Homo sapiens: one gene and its partners. The protein of the gene in region 3 purifies or fractionates together with the protein of the main gene of each other region. This does not show direct contact. Each region holds a gene or a part of one and is shown on either strand. Other genes may lie near its edges.

Region 1 (4,002 bases), on a different chromosome or scaffold from region 3:
CCCCGGGAGAGCCTGGCCCCTGGGTGTGGGGTGAAGCTGCCCGGGAGGGGGCTGCTGAGCCAGACTCACGGTGCGGGTTGTCCAGCACCGCGCGGGAGATGACCGGCTCCAGCTCCTGCAGGAGGATCTCCTCGCGGTCCCGCCGGCTGCGCCACGCCTCCAATGCCACCTGGTTGATCTGCTTGCCACCCGTGTTGCTAAAACCATGGGGGACCCAGGCTGAGACTCAGATGAGGACTAGCGCAGGGCAGGATTGGACCCTCGCTTCCCCGCTGCCACCTGACATAGGAACATGGCTCAGTGCGGGGAGGAGCCAACTCCACTGAAAACGCTCCACTTCCCCCTCCATGGTGTCCACATCCATGGCCCCTGTAATTCACCTACACATGCCACGTACTTTATAGTTTACAAAACACTTTTGTGTCCCTCAACTGACTTTCCCTCACTGAACTTCCAGGAAGGCATCGGGGCATCATTATTGGCCCCGCTGTTCAGAAGCAGAGACAGAGGCTCAGAGAGGCGGAGCCATGCTGCCTGAGGAAACACAGCGAGGATTCTGAGAGCTGGGACTAAAGGACAAGAACTCTGTTCCTATTTTTCCCAGGCCTGTGTCCTCCTCACCACAAAAGAGGGAAAACTTCTTGACCTGGCAGGGCTTCCACAAAGAAGTGGCGATCAAAAAGACTGAGCCCAGAATTTGCTGAGAATGTCCAAAGGGAAATCAACCAGGCGGAATGACAATGTCATCTCTGAGAGTGGCGGAGGGCACTGGGAAAGCCCAGCTAAGCCCATGGGGAACTGGATTCTGCTGGGAGCACAGGCTAAGGCTGTAGAGCTGAACCTCTGAGAAGTGGCCCCCCCACTGTGCCCACTGCAAAGCCGGGCCCCACCTGATGAAGATGAAGATGGCTTTGCGGTAATTGGTCCCGTATACCACCCAGGAGGAGCCCAGGAAAGGCCGCAGGACTTCCATCAGGCCTGGGGGCATCTTGTCCATCTCATCGAAGAGGAAGAGGGAGCGGCCACAGGCAGTGAGGTTCCCTTGGACCCAGCTCTTCAGATCCTTCTGTAGGGGAGAGACAGGAGTTCCAGGGGAGCTGGAGAAACTCCCCCAACACCAGACCTCTTCCCAAACCAAAACTAATCTCCTTTCTAGGGAAGGATGTGGTCTTCCAGAGAGCACCAACCTCTTAGTGAGACTGATGGTGAAACTGTATCCCAGATTGGGGCAGAGACTTGCCCAAAGTCACACAGCCAGTCAGAACAGGGACTCAAACCCAAGCCTCCCACTTCCCTGTTCAGAGCTCCTTCCACGACACTTGCTGCTTTCTATAAAAGGGGAAGGCTCCTTCCTGCTCCCTGAAACTACACAGCAGTGTTGACGGCTGAAACTGATCAGCCTGGTGGGTACCCTGCAATCAACAACAGTAGTAGTAAGAGCCAATATTTCCTGATGCTTCCTCTGAGCCACAAATTGGGGCTGATTTCCAGCAAGACAACAGTGCAGATTATCTGACAAACATAGGTGCTCCATAAATGATATCTGCAATGGTATAATCTCATGTCCCTCACAACAACCCTGGCATGTAGGTACTGCCAGGGTTCCTTACTGCCCCAAGGAATCAAAGTACTCCCTGCCAGGTAGAATGACACCTTCCCAAGTTCTGTGCAGGATGGGTCCTGAGGGCTGGGGCTGCAGCCGTGTGTGGCCTGGAGCAGGTGACTCCCCTGTCTGGGCTCAGGACTTACTCCCTAGGGTGGCACCCCATGGTGAGAACAGTGGTCAAGGACGCATCCAGCCTACCTTGTAGCGCTCGATGTGGCTGGGGTGGGGGAAGTGGAGGACGGGAGAAAAGTGGTGCACGCGGGGGCTGCGGAGGCCGCCCTGGAAGAGGTAGTGCGCCAGCAGGGAGCTGACATAGGATTTGCCGGTGCCGGTCCAGCCGTGCAGGGAGAGGACCAGCGGCTTGGTGGGGGCTGGGTCCCGCACAAAGGCCTTCAGCGCCTTCACCACCAGCGCCTTGGCCAGATGCTGGCCGGCCAGGTGCTGAGCCAGGTCACACTCCAGACCTAGGGCCACAGGAGGATGGTGAGGACACATCCCACCGAGGCAGAGGTTCAAGGAGAACATCATGTCTGGAACCTGGTCTGGGACTCCTGTGTCCTTACGTTTGTCCAAGCTGCCTATGCACATGGCACGCAAACCTTGGGGTCTGTGGCGGAAAAGAGCCACCTTCGGGCCTGATTCAGCTCGGCAGCGCCCCCACCAGGCGGTCCTCTAGATTGCACTCAGCTCTAAATGCGAGCTGTCAACGGGGTCAGCCGCAGACCCCGCCCATCCCCAAGGCGCACTGCACTTCTCCTTTGACGGCCAGGCCATTCCGGGGAGGCCCAAGAACTTCCACCAAGGGTTCTGCTGGCTGAGGCCTCTCTCCAGGTTGGCAGGGCCTCCTGGACCTCAACGGGTACCCTCCACCCTCCCAAGTCTGCGGGCCCCGCCCCTCGGTCCCACCCTCTGGGTCCTCAGCTTCTCTGGCCGGCGCCAGCCGGGCTCCCAGGGCTCCCAGCGCTCCCGCGTCTGCCCGCGTCCGCCCGCCCCTCGCTCCGGGCTCCCTGGCGCCTCACCCGGCAAGTCGGGCCGGAAGTCGCATTCGCAAAAGGCGCCCAAGGTGCAGCGCAGGGAAGCCAGGTCCCAGGCGGCGGCCGCGGCCGAGACCAGCCCGAGCAGCCCGAGGAGCGAGCCCCAGGGCCGGCAGCCGCGCGTCGCAGCCGCCATCCGGGTGAGGCCCGAGCTCGTTGTGGGGCAGTCAACTGCCTCGCCCGGGAACTGCAACTCCCGGCGTGCACCGCTCCGCAGCAGCCACGCCCATCGCCTACAACTCCCGACGCTCCTCTCCCCGCCTCCAAGGCCCGCCCGTCGTTCCGCAGCAGGACCAGAAGGTGGCCTCCAGGGGGAACCCGCGAACCGTCCAATCCGGGACGGCGGGCCGCGTTTCCATGGCCACGGTAACTAGGGGACCATCGTAGTGGCTCAGAAAGAATAAATAAAGGATCACGACCACAAAGGGCGACGTAACAATTACAGCAAAAACTTGTGCGGAACCTTACACCTTGCAAAGCGCCTTTTCCATGCTCCTTTTTTCTTCTATATGACAAAAGTGCCCTCACTAACAGCTTTTGGTGAGCACTTACTCTGTGCCATTAGTGCTAAGTGCCTATATACCTTATAATATGGTAATAGTATCTGCTATCCAGAGAAATGGTGGTGTTCCAATGAGATAAAGGCACACAAATTGTCTGGCTCAGAAAGTGGTCAATACATGATCATCAACATTCCGTTGTGTATTAAACAGGACTGTCCCTCACCTAGCAGCAACTGTGGCCAAATGCTTGGTATCAGTCCTGGGAGATGGGTTCTGTTGTTGTCCCCATCTTAATAAGGAGGAATTTGGGACCGAAGAGGTTAAGCCTCTTACCCAATGTCACGCAGCTGGTAAACAATAGAACTAAACCCAAGTCTGGCTGCAACCAGAGCCGTAGTGCGTGGTTGCATGTTATCAGCCTCTCTTGGTCAAAGGATTCAGAAGGCAAAGGACTCCAGACGTTTGAGGTTCAGCGCGCAGGCTCCCTAGGCCTCCAGCTTGGCCTGGATTCGTTTTGATCCACGTTGCCCACCTCCCCCACCCACTGGAGTAAGGGAACCAAGACAACAGCCTTCATGGCCCACCTCAAAGACCCTGTCCCTACCAACCTCAACACATAGTCACACACACACACACACACACACACACACACGACTTCTGGGGCCAAATATCAGAGCCTGAAAAAGAAATAAGTATTTCCGGCCAGGTGCGGTGGCTCATGCCTGTAATCCCAGCACTTTGGGAGGCCGAGGCGCGTGAATCAACATGGCGAAACCCCGTCTCTACTACAAATACGAAAATTAGCCGGGCGTGGTGGCAGGCTCCCGTAATCCTGGCTACTCTGGAGGCTAAGGCAGGA
Region 2 (3,715 bases), on a different chromosome or scaffold from region 3:
GTGACTGTGCTGAAGAGGGGGCCCAGGGTTAGCCACGGGGTGTCATCGGAGCTGCAAGGCCCAGGGAGGGGTTGCGGGTCTGGAGACCGCTGTAAGCCATGCGTGTTCCCAGATGAGTATGTGGTGAGCTTGGTGCAGATAGATAGGGGGTGTCATCAGCATCTCCCTGGGGGAGGATGGCAGGGGCATGAGGGCCATTTAGGAAACCACCTGGACCAGGGTTTGAGGGTTTACACAGCCAGATGCTGCAGGGCAGGGCATCACGAGCCTGGCCGACAGCGCCTCTGCCGGGGCTCTGAGTCTGCCACGTGCCTGACATTTTCTGTGCAGGGCTAGACATCCCGCCTGCGCTTTGCAGCCATTGTCCCTGGTCTAAGGAGTCTCTGCCCTGACACTTTTTTGCTTCCTATGGTCACATGCTGAGAGATGAAAGGAAATGTCATCTCCAGTAAAGCCTTTCTGAAAAGGTGGACCTAAACCTTTGTTTTGGAGTCAGTATTTGCTTATTTTAACTTTTTTATTTGGAAATAATTTACTACTCACAATAAGTGGCAAAAATAATAGATCCTTTGTACCCTTCTCCCAGCTTCCCACTAACAACATCTGCCACGACTGTAGGTTCATTTTCAAACCTGGGAAGCTGGCATTGGTGCAAATAAACCACAGGCATGATTTGCTTTTTATAGATTTGTATGTCTAAGCATGTGTGTGTATGTGTGTTTCAGGCGTGTGTGTGGGATGTGTGTTAGGTGTATCTGTGTACAGATTTGTGTAACCACCACCCAGATAAAGCCAGTTCTTTTTTTTTTTTTTTTTTTTTTTTTCCAGTTCTTCGAGTGTTGATTTGTGTAAGACAATGTCTGCCAGGGCTGGTACTATTTTTTTTTTTTTTCCTGAATAATTGTGGACTCCTCTGTTTCAGGGCAAAATCTCCAAAAATCTTGCCAGATATTCTGAAGAAAATCGGGGACACCCCTATGGTCAGAATCAACAAGATTGGGAAGAAGTTCGGCCTGAAGTGTGAGCTCTGTGAGTGCCCTGGCTTTGGAGAGGGGCTTCCTCCATCTACACTGGGCTCCGTGGGCCTGGGGGGTCCTGGGGGGTCCTGGGATGGATCCCTTAGGCAAGGCCCTGGGATCAGAAAACTCGCTGGTTAATGAGTGGCCAAGAACATATCAGCTTAAGTTTGGGAAAAACACACAACAGGGCATTGTGTCAGAGGGTGACCAAAGTGACTCCCCAGCAGATGGACCAGGGAACGAACAGGTGACCTTTGAACTGAGGCCGGAGTGGAAGCAGCGAGGGTGTGAAGGGCCGGGTGAGGGTCAAAGGCAGAAGCAAGCAGGTGGGGAGGGTTAGCGTCATGCCTGCTAAGGAGCAGTGGACGGGTCCTAGCACGTGCTGTGAGCCACCCGCTGTCCAGGGAGCGGTTACCTCTGTCTTGCCAGCTTCGTGGGGACAGATAGTTCAGCTCATCATTTATGAGACAGAGAATGGGAATTTGGAGGGTCTGTGGCTGGCCTCGTCCTGGGTGCGCAGGGGGTCACCTGAGGTGTGGTCTGAGGCCTCCGGGGAAGGGCATTTCTTTGCAGGACGCAGTTTCCAGGCTCAAGAACGTGGAGGGAATTCCTAAGGGTCGCTCTTCACCAAGAGCGCAGAGCCCTGGTAGACCTCAGCATCGTCACAGAGAAAGCTGTGGGTGCAGAGGCCTTGGGGACAAGGCGGGGACGGAATTTCGTATTTCAGATGACCAAGGCCAAGTGAGTTCGGAGGGAGGCAGGAAGGGTGCCGCGGAGAACCCCGCGACAGGGCCAGATGGAGGGGGTGGAGTTCGAGTGGGAAGGAGAGGGAACCAGTAACATGGCTTGGGACTTTTTCATCCTGAGATGCTCTAATGTCCCAGCCGGGGGACCTGTGAGAGCTGGGGCAGGCGCTGGGGGAAGGAAGTCAGGGGTCGGTGCGTTGGGAACCGATCGCCGATTCACAGGAGGGGCCTCGTGGGAGCCTGGCCCTCCTCTGCCCCCCTCTAGGGAAGGAGATCTCGGAGCTGCAGCAGAGCAGCCCCCTTCACAGAGACCCCCAAGGCAGCAGGGCCGGCTCTGTGCTCATTTGTCAGACAATAGGGACCCTTAACTCGTACGCAGCACGCGTGGCTGGCTCACTGTGCTCCGTACAGGATGACGTCTAAACTTGGTGGTTGCCCTTGAAGTAGGTTTTGGAATGCCCGTTTTACAGACAGACACACCGAGGGTCAGGTTGGTCACGTGGCTTGCCGGAGGCCACCAGCTCTGATTTCTGCTTCGGAGCTGGCCCCCAGGCGCTAGTGAGAATGATCTAACTGAGGGTTTCACAGTATGGGACCCAGAGGGGTCCGAGAATGCAGGCCTGTAGAGGGCCAGACCCCGAGAGTCCTCCCCACCACACACAGCGCCTCGTCCTGGTTCTAGGGGCAACACCTGTCTGGTGGTTGCTTTCAGAAATTTTGAGGTGCTGCAGGCTGGTCCCAGGTCCCTCAAATCACATTTCATGCAGCCCAGTCTCTCGCTCTTAAAAACTAAATATTTTTAAGAGCTGGAGAGGGAGAGAGGACTTGCAGTAAGGAAGGAAGTGCAAGTGAAGGCCTTGGCCTTGTGCGGGAACCGCGCAGGGAGCCCTTCCCCGGGCAGGTGACGCCCCACAGGGGGAGGAGGACAATGGGAGGCTGTAGGGAGAGTATGCGAGTCCCCATCCGATGGGGAAGCCAGTGCTGTGGCTTCAGGACATCAAGCTGCTTTGGCAGGGGCCGCTGGGTATGGCTGGGCATAGGGGCGTAGGGGACCCAAATCCAGGCGCCTGCCCGCCACAAGCCCAGCTCGTGGGTGGGGGGACGGGGTTTTCTGCGGCGCCCCCCAGTGAGGGCTGCTTATGCCTCTCTGGTTCCCACAGAGTTGCTCAGCGCCCTGCAGGACCGGTAGGATGGGCTGCAGGGGGAGAAGCTCTGATAGGCTAGTGCCCAGGTGCAGGTGTAGGGGAGGTGAGTGGAGAGGTGGCAATTTTTCAGAACCCACAGACCCCCAAGCCCGTCCCCCACCCTGGGGTGTATCAGGTAATGGGGGGGTGAGCAGGAATCAATGGGGGGGTGGTCAGGGGGTCCCCTCTGTGATTCATCTCTGCCTCCCAGTGGCCAAGTGTGAGTTCTTCAACGCGGGCGGGAGCGTGAAGGACCGCATCAGCCTGCGGATGATTGAGGATGCTGAGCGCGACGGGACGCTGAAGCCCGGGGACACGATTATCGAGCCGACATCCGGGAACACCGGTGGGTGCCAGGCCCAGAGGGGGTGGCCAGGGCTGGCTGTCCCCTACCCATGCCGAGCCTGCCGGGACCCGGGGGGGATGGCTGAGCTGCAGCCGCATGTGCTGGCCCGCCTGGCCGCCTGCTCCCTGGCATCTTGCACCCGCTGCCGGCCTGTGTCCCAACCTAGCTTCCTTTGACCAGCATTCGGGGCCAGTGCCGATGCTCTCGGGGCGATGGCACCTGGCAGTGCCTGGCACACAAGACGAGCACCCGGAGTCTGCTCTTCCTGTGCCTGTGTACCCGGCTGGGCCTGGAGGAACCAGATCTCCTGTCCTGCGCCGCTGCCTCCTCCTCCTTGACGTGTACCTTTTATTTCTGCCTCTGGCAGCCTCTCTCCCCCTGCACTTGAAGGCAGAAGCAGCCATGTTGGGCAATTTTGGA
Region 3 (3,715 bases):
CTGAGGAATAGATGTACACCTTCATTCCGGCCTCTCTCCACTTCCTGACTGCTGGAACTACATCTGCAAAGAACCTAGAGGGAAGACCACTAAGTTAAAATACAGGAACACCTCATCTAGCCAGATAAAAACCTGTCAAAACAGATGCCATATGTTTCTCTCTTTGTGCCCACATGGTAACCTGAGAAGCAGCTCCCTGAGACTACAAACTCCTGCAGTTCTAATAAACATACTGCCCAAGTTCCAGGCTCACAGCAGATTAGAAGCAACAATCTATGTGGAAAGGAGGATAGTTTTGAACAGACAGCCACTAGTGACAGTAAAAAGGGACTACAGATAAAAGGATGAAATGGGAAAGTGTTTTTTAAATTCCCGAAGAACTCAAAAAAGCAAACAACAGCAATGATATAATATAATCTTTGATGTTCTTCATGACAAGAAAAGGTTAAATTATGTCCACTGTGCTTTAAGAAAGCATGGAAATGCTTTTAGAAAGATCTGCACCCAAAATAATCAAAACAAAGTTTGAAGGCTCAAAGCTATAAACTTATGATTAGCTAGAAAATGGAATTACTTTTTTTTGAGACAGGGTCTTGCTCTGTTGCCTAGGCTGGAGTGCAGTGGCATGATCTCAGCTCACTGCAACCTCTACCTCCTGGGCTCGAGTGATCCTCCCACCTCAGCCTCCCAGGTAGTTGGGACTACAAGCATGTGCTACCACCCCCAGCTTTTTTTTTTTTTTTTTAATTTTTTGTAGAGATGGTGCTTTGCCATGTCACCCAGGCTGGTCTCAAACTCCTGGACTCAAGTGATCCCCCCACTTCAGCCTCCCAAAGTGCTGGGATTACAGGCATGAGCCACTGCACCCGGCCTGCATTTTTTGAGAACTAAGAAAACAATGTTTTATTATATGGGGAAAAAATTACATAACAAGTCAGTTGAGACTTGTACCAACTCACATTAACCAGTCAGCAAAAGATGTCTTTTTCTGACTTCTGACACTCAGTCTCTCTTACCAATTCTAGTGTTTTCCATAGTCATGGAGGAAATTAACATCACAGGAGAAAGGTGAAAAGAGAAGCACAAAGAACTTGGGTTGTAGAACCAGTCATCTCTAAAAGATTACCTGGAAAATGTCAGTGGAGTCTTCCGCTTTATATGTATTAACATGCTTAACATGTTGCACTAATTGAAGGAAAGAGATCAACGTATTCAAAACCAGTACACATGTAAGTATGTTATTCTGAGTACTAGTTTGCACTCATGGAGACAGGATTTTTCCTGTCTTCAGCAGTTAGTTGTATAATTAAGGAACCAAGACCAAGAGAAGTATGGGCTAACTACCGGGTGCACAGTCTCCTGTCTCCACTTTTTTGAGTGCTTTACAAAGTGAACCTGGCTGATATTCCCAGATCACTGGCATATCCTGAAATTCCAGTCCATCCTTTAAAAGGTAGAAGCTCCTCGTAAAGTACATAAATAAAGAAACAACATCTCATTTGACAGAAACACAAAAGAAATATATGCAGCTGGAAACAATCTTGGATCCTAGGGTTTACAGCAGGCAATGGCCTAAAATCCTTAAGAATTTCACACCCAGGTGCAGTGGCTCACACCTGTAATCCCAGCACTTTGGGAGGCCAAGGGGGGGCGGATCACAAGGTCAGGAGATCGAGAGCATCCTGGCTAACACGGTGAAACACTGTCTCTACTAAAAATACAAAAAATTAGCCGGGCGTGGTGGCACACGCCTGTAGTCCCAGCTACTCGGGAGGCTGAGGCAGGAGAATGGCGTGAACCCAGGAGGCGGAGCTTGCAGCGAGCTGAGATCACGCCACTGCACTCCAGCCTGGGTGACAGAGCAAGACTCCGTCTCAAAAAAAAAAAAAAAAAAAGAATTTCTCAGCAGGCCTGGCACAGTGGCTCACGCCTGTAATCCTAGCACTTTGGGAGGCCAAGGTAGGTGGACTGCCCTGAGCTCAGGAGCTTAAGACCAGCCTGGACAACATGATAAAACCCTGTCTCTACTAAAATACAAAAAATTAGCCAGGTGTGGTGGCACGCACCTGTAGTCCCCGCTGTTTGGGAGGCTGAGGTACAAGAATTGCTTGAACCCAGAGGGCGGAGGTTGCAGTGAGCTAAGATTGTGTGAATGCACTCCATCCTGGACAACAGAGTGAGACTATCTCCAAAAACAAAAATAGGCCGGGAGGGGTGGCTCATACCTGTAATCCTAGCAGTTTGGGAGGCTGAGATGGGGTGGACCACTTGAGGTCAGGAGTTCAAGACCAGCCTGGCCAATATGGTGAAACCCCATGTCTACTAAAAATACAAAAATTAGCATAGTGGCAGGCGGCTACTCCAGAGGCTGAGGCAGGAGAATCGCTTGAACCCAGGAGGTAGAAGTTGCAGTGAGCTGAGATTGCGCCACTGCACTCCAGCCTGGGCAAAGAGCAAGACTCGGTCTCAAAGCAAAAACAGAAACAAACAAACGAAAAGAATTTATCAGCAATATGGTATGGACAACATAGCAAGACCACACCTCTACAAAAATGTTTTTTGAATAGCCAGGTGTGGTGGTGCGTGCCTGTGGTCCCAGCTAATGAGGAGGCTGAGGCGGGAGGTTCACTTGAAGGCTACAGTGAGCTATGATGGCACCACTGCACTCCAGTGTGGATCACAGAGCAAGACCCCAGCTCTAAAAAAAAAAAAATAGGCCAGGTATTGTGACTTACGCCTGTAACCCCAGCATTTTGGGAGTCCAAGGCAGGCAGATCGCTCAAGCCCAGAAGTTTGAGACTAGCCTGGGCAACATGGTAGAACCCCATCTGTACTAAAAATACAAAAACTAGCTGGGCATGGTGGCACATGCCTAGTCCCAGCTACTCGGTAGGCTGAGGTGGGAGGATCACCTGAACTAGGGGAGGTCAAGGCTGCAGTGAGCCATGATCATGCCACTGCACTCCAGCCAACAGAGTAGGACCCTGTCTGAATCAATCAAGAATTTCTCAGTAAGTATAATACTCAAAAGTCTCCTCAGGCAGGAGTGCTATTAGGAACTCCATAACCAAGACTCAAAGAATCTGTGGAAGTTGCTCAAAAGAGCAAAGAAGAACGTGGTAGTGCGGACATCCTCTGAGTAACCTCAACACGGTGGGGCACAAAATTTCCTATGTCTCATAGAGCAAAAAGCAGGTAATTAACAGTCCAGGCAAGCAGCCCAACGGAGCTGTCACTCATGTGCTAAGAATCAAATATGACTTAGTTCAAGGAAGTCACCATTTTCTAGGAAGCTATTTTAAACGGAGACTTTGACAAGTCCTTCAATCAACCCACAAGACCAGACTGGCAGGTCCGGGTAATCTAGTCAGCTGAAATATTTTAGCCAAGTTTTGAAAAAATGAAACAAAGCTCACTTGTTAGACTAAAAAGAGTGTGGATTTTTATCTGTTTTACCAGTCTTGTGACTTACGCTGGAAAGAGAGGACTGGTGAAAAAACATATTTGGATTTGGGACTGGTGAAATGTTTAGGCTGACTCAAGCACATACTCTGCTTTCATGCGCCCAGCTGTGAATGCCGCCCTCCACATGTGGCCCTGCAGCTGTTTGAGTGCAGTGGTCTTTCGATCCAGGGACATCTGCCAGCACACATTATCTACCACGGCCTGGATCATCTGTTGCAGATCATCCACTCCATTCCCAGATGCTGCAGGG

The links.
Region 1: the proteins of ENOPH1 (region 3) and TOR2A purify together in Homo sapiens (affinity purification with mass spectrometry, with the first as the bait; one large-scale study listed by BioGRID). This does not show direct contact.
Region 2: the proteins of ENOPH1 (region 3) and CBS fractionate together in Homo sapiens (co-fractionation; one large-scale study listed by BioGRID). This does not show direct contact.

The regions. Positions count from the first base shown.
Region 1 is NC_000009.12:127,732,495-127,736,496, forward strand, and holds the start of TOR2A (prosalusin isoform a precursor), read right to left. Parts: upstream 2,801-4,002; 5' UTR 2,777-2,800; coding exon 2,626-2,776; intron 2,071-2,625; coding exon 1,805-2,070; intron 1,067-1,804; coding exon 891-1,066; coding exon of another isoform or gene 722-890; exon of another isoform or gene 280-721; coding exon of another isoform or gene 198-279; coding exon 70-197; exon of another isoform or gene 1-69. UniProt on the Homo sapiens protein: Salusins -alpha and -beta may be endocrine and/or paracrine factors able to increase intracellular calcium concentrations and induce cell mitogenesis. Salusins may also be potent hypotensive peptides.
Region 2 is NC_000021.9:43,065,823-43,069,537, reverse strand, and holds part of CBS (cystathionine beta-synthase), read left to right. Parts: intron 1-922; coding exon 923-1,029; intron 1,030-1,133; exon of another isoform or gene 1,134-1,481; coding exon of another isoform or gene 1,482-1,760; exon of another isoform or gene 1,761-2,904; coding exon of another isoform or gene 2,905-3,013; intron 3,014-3,160; coding exon 3,161-3,295; intron 3,296-3,715. UniProt on the Homo sapiens protein: Hydro-lyase catalyzing the first step of the transsulfuration pathway, where the hydroxyl group of L-serine is displaced by L-homocysteine in a beta-replacement reaction to form L-cystathionine, the precursor of L-cysteine.
Region 3 is NC_000004.12:82,451,081-82,454,795, reverse strand, and holds part of ENOPH1 (enolase-phosphatase E1), read right to left. Parts: coding exon 3,551-3,715; intron 75-3,550; coding exon 1-74. UniProt on the Homo sapiens protein: Bifunctional enzyme that catalyzes the enolization of 2,3-diketo-5-methylthiopentyl-1-phosphate (DK-MTP-1-P) into the intermediate 2-hydroxy-3-keto-5-methylthiopentenyl-1-phosphate (HK-MTPenyl-1-P), which is then dephosphorylated to form the acireductone 1,2-dihydroxy-3-keto-5-methylthiopentene (DHK-MTPene).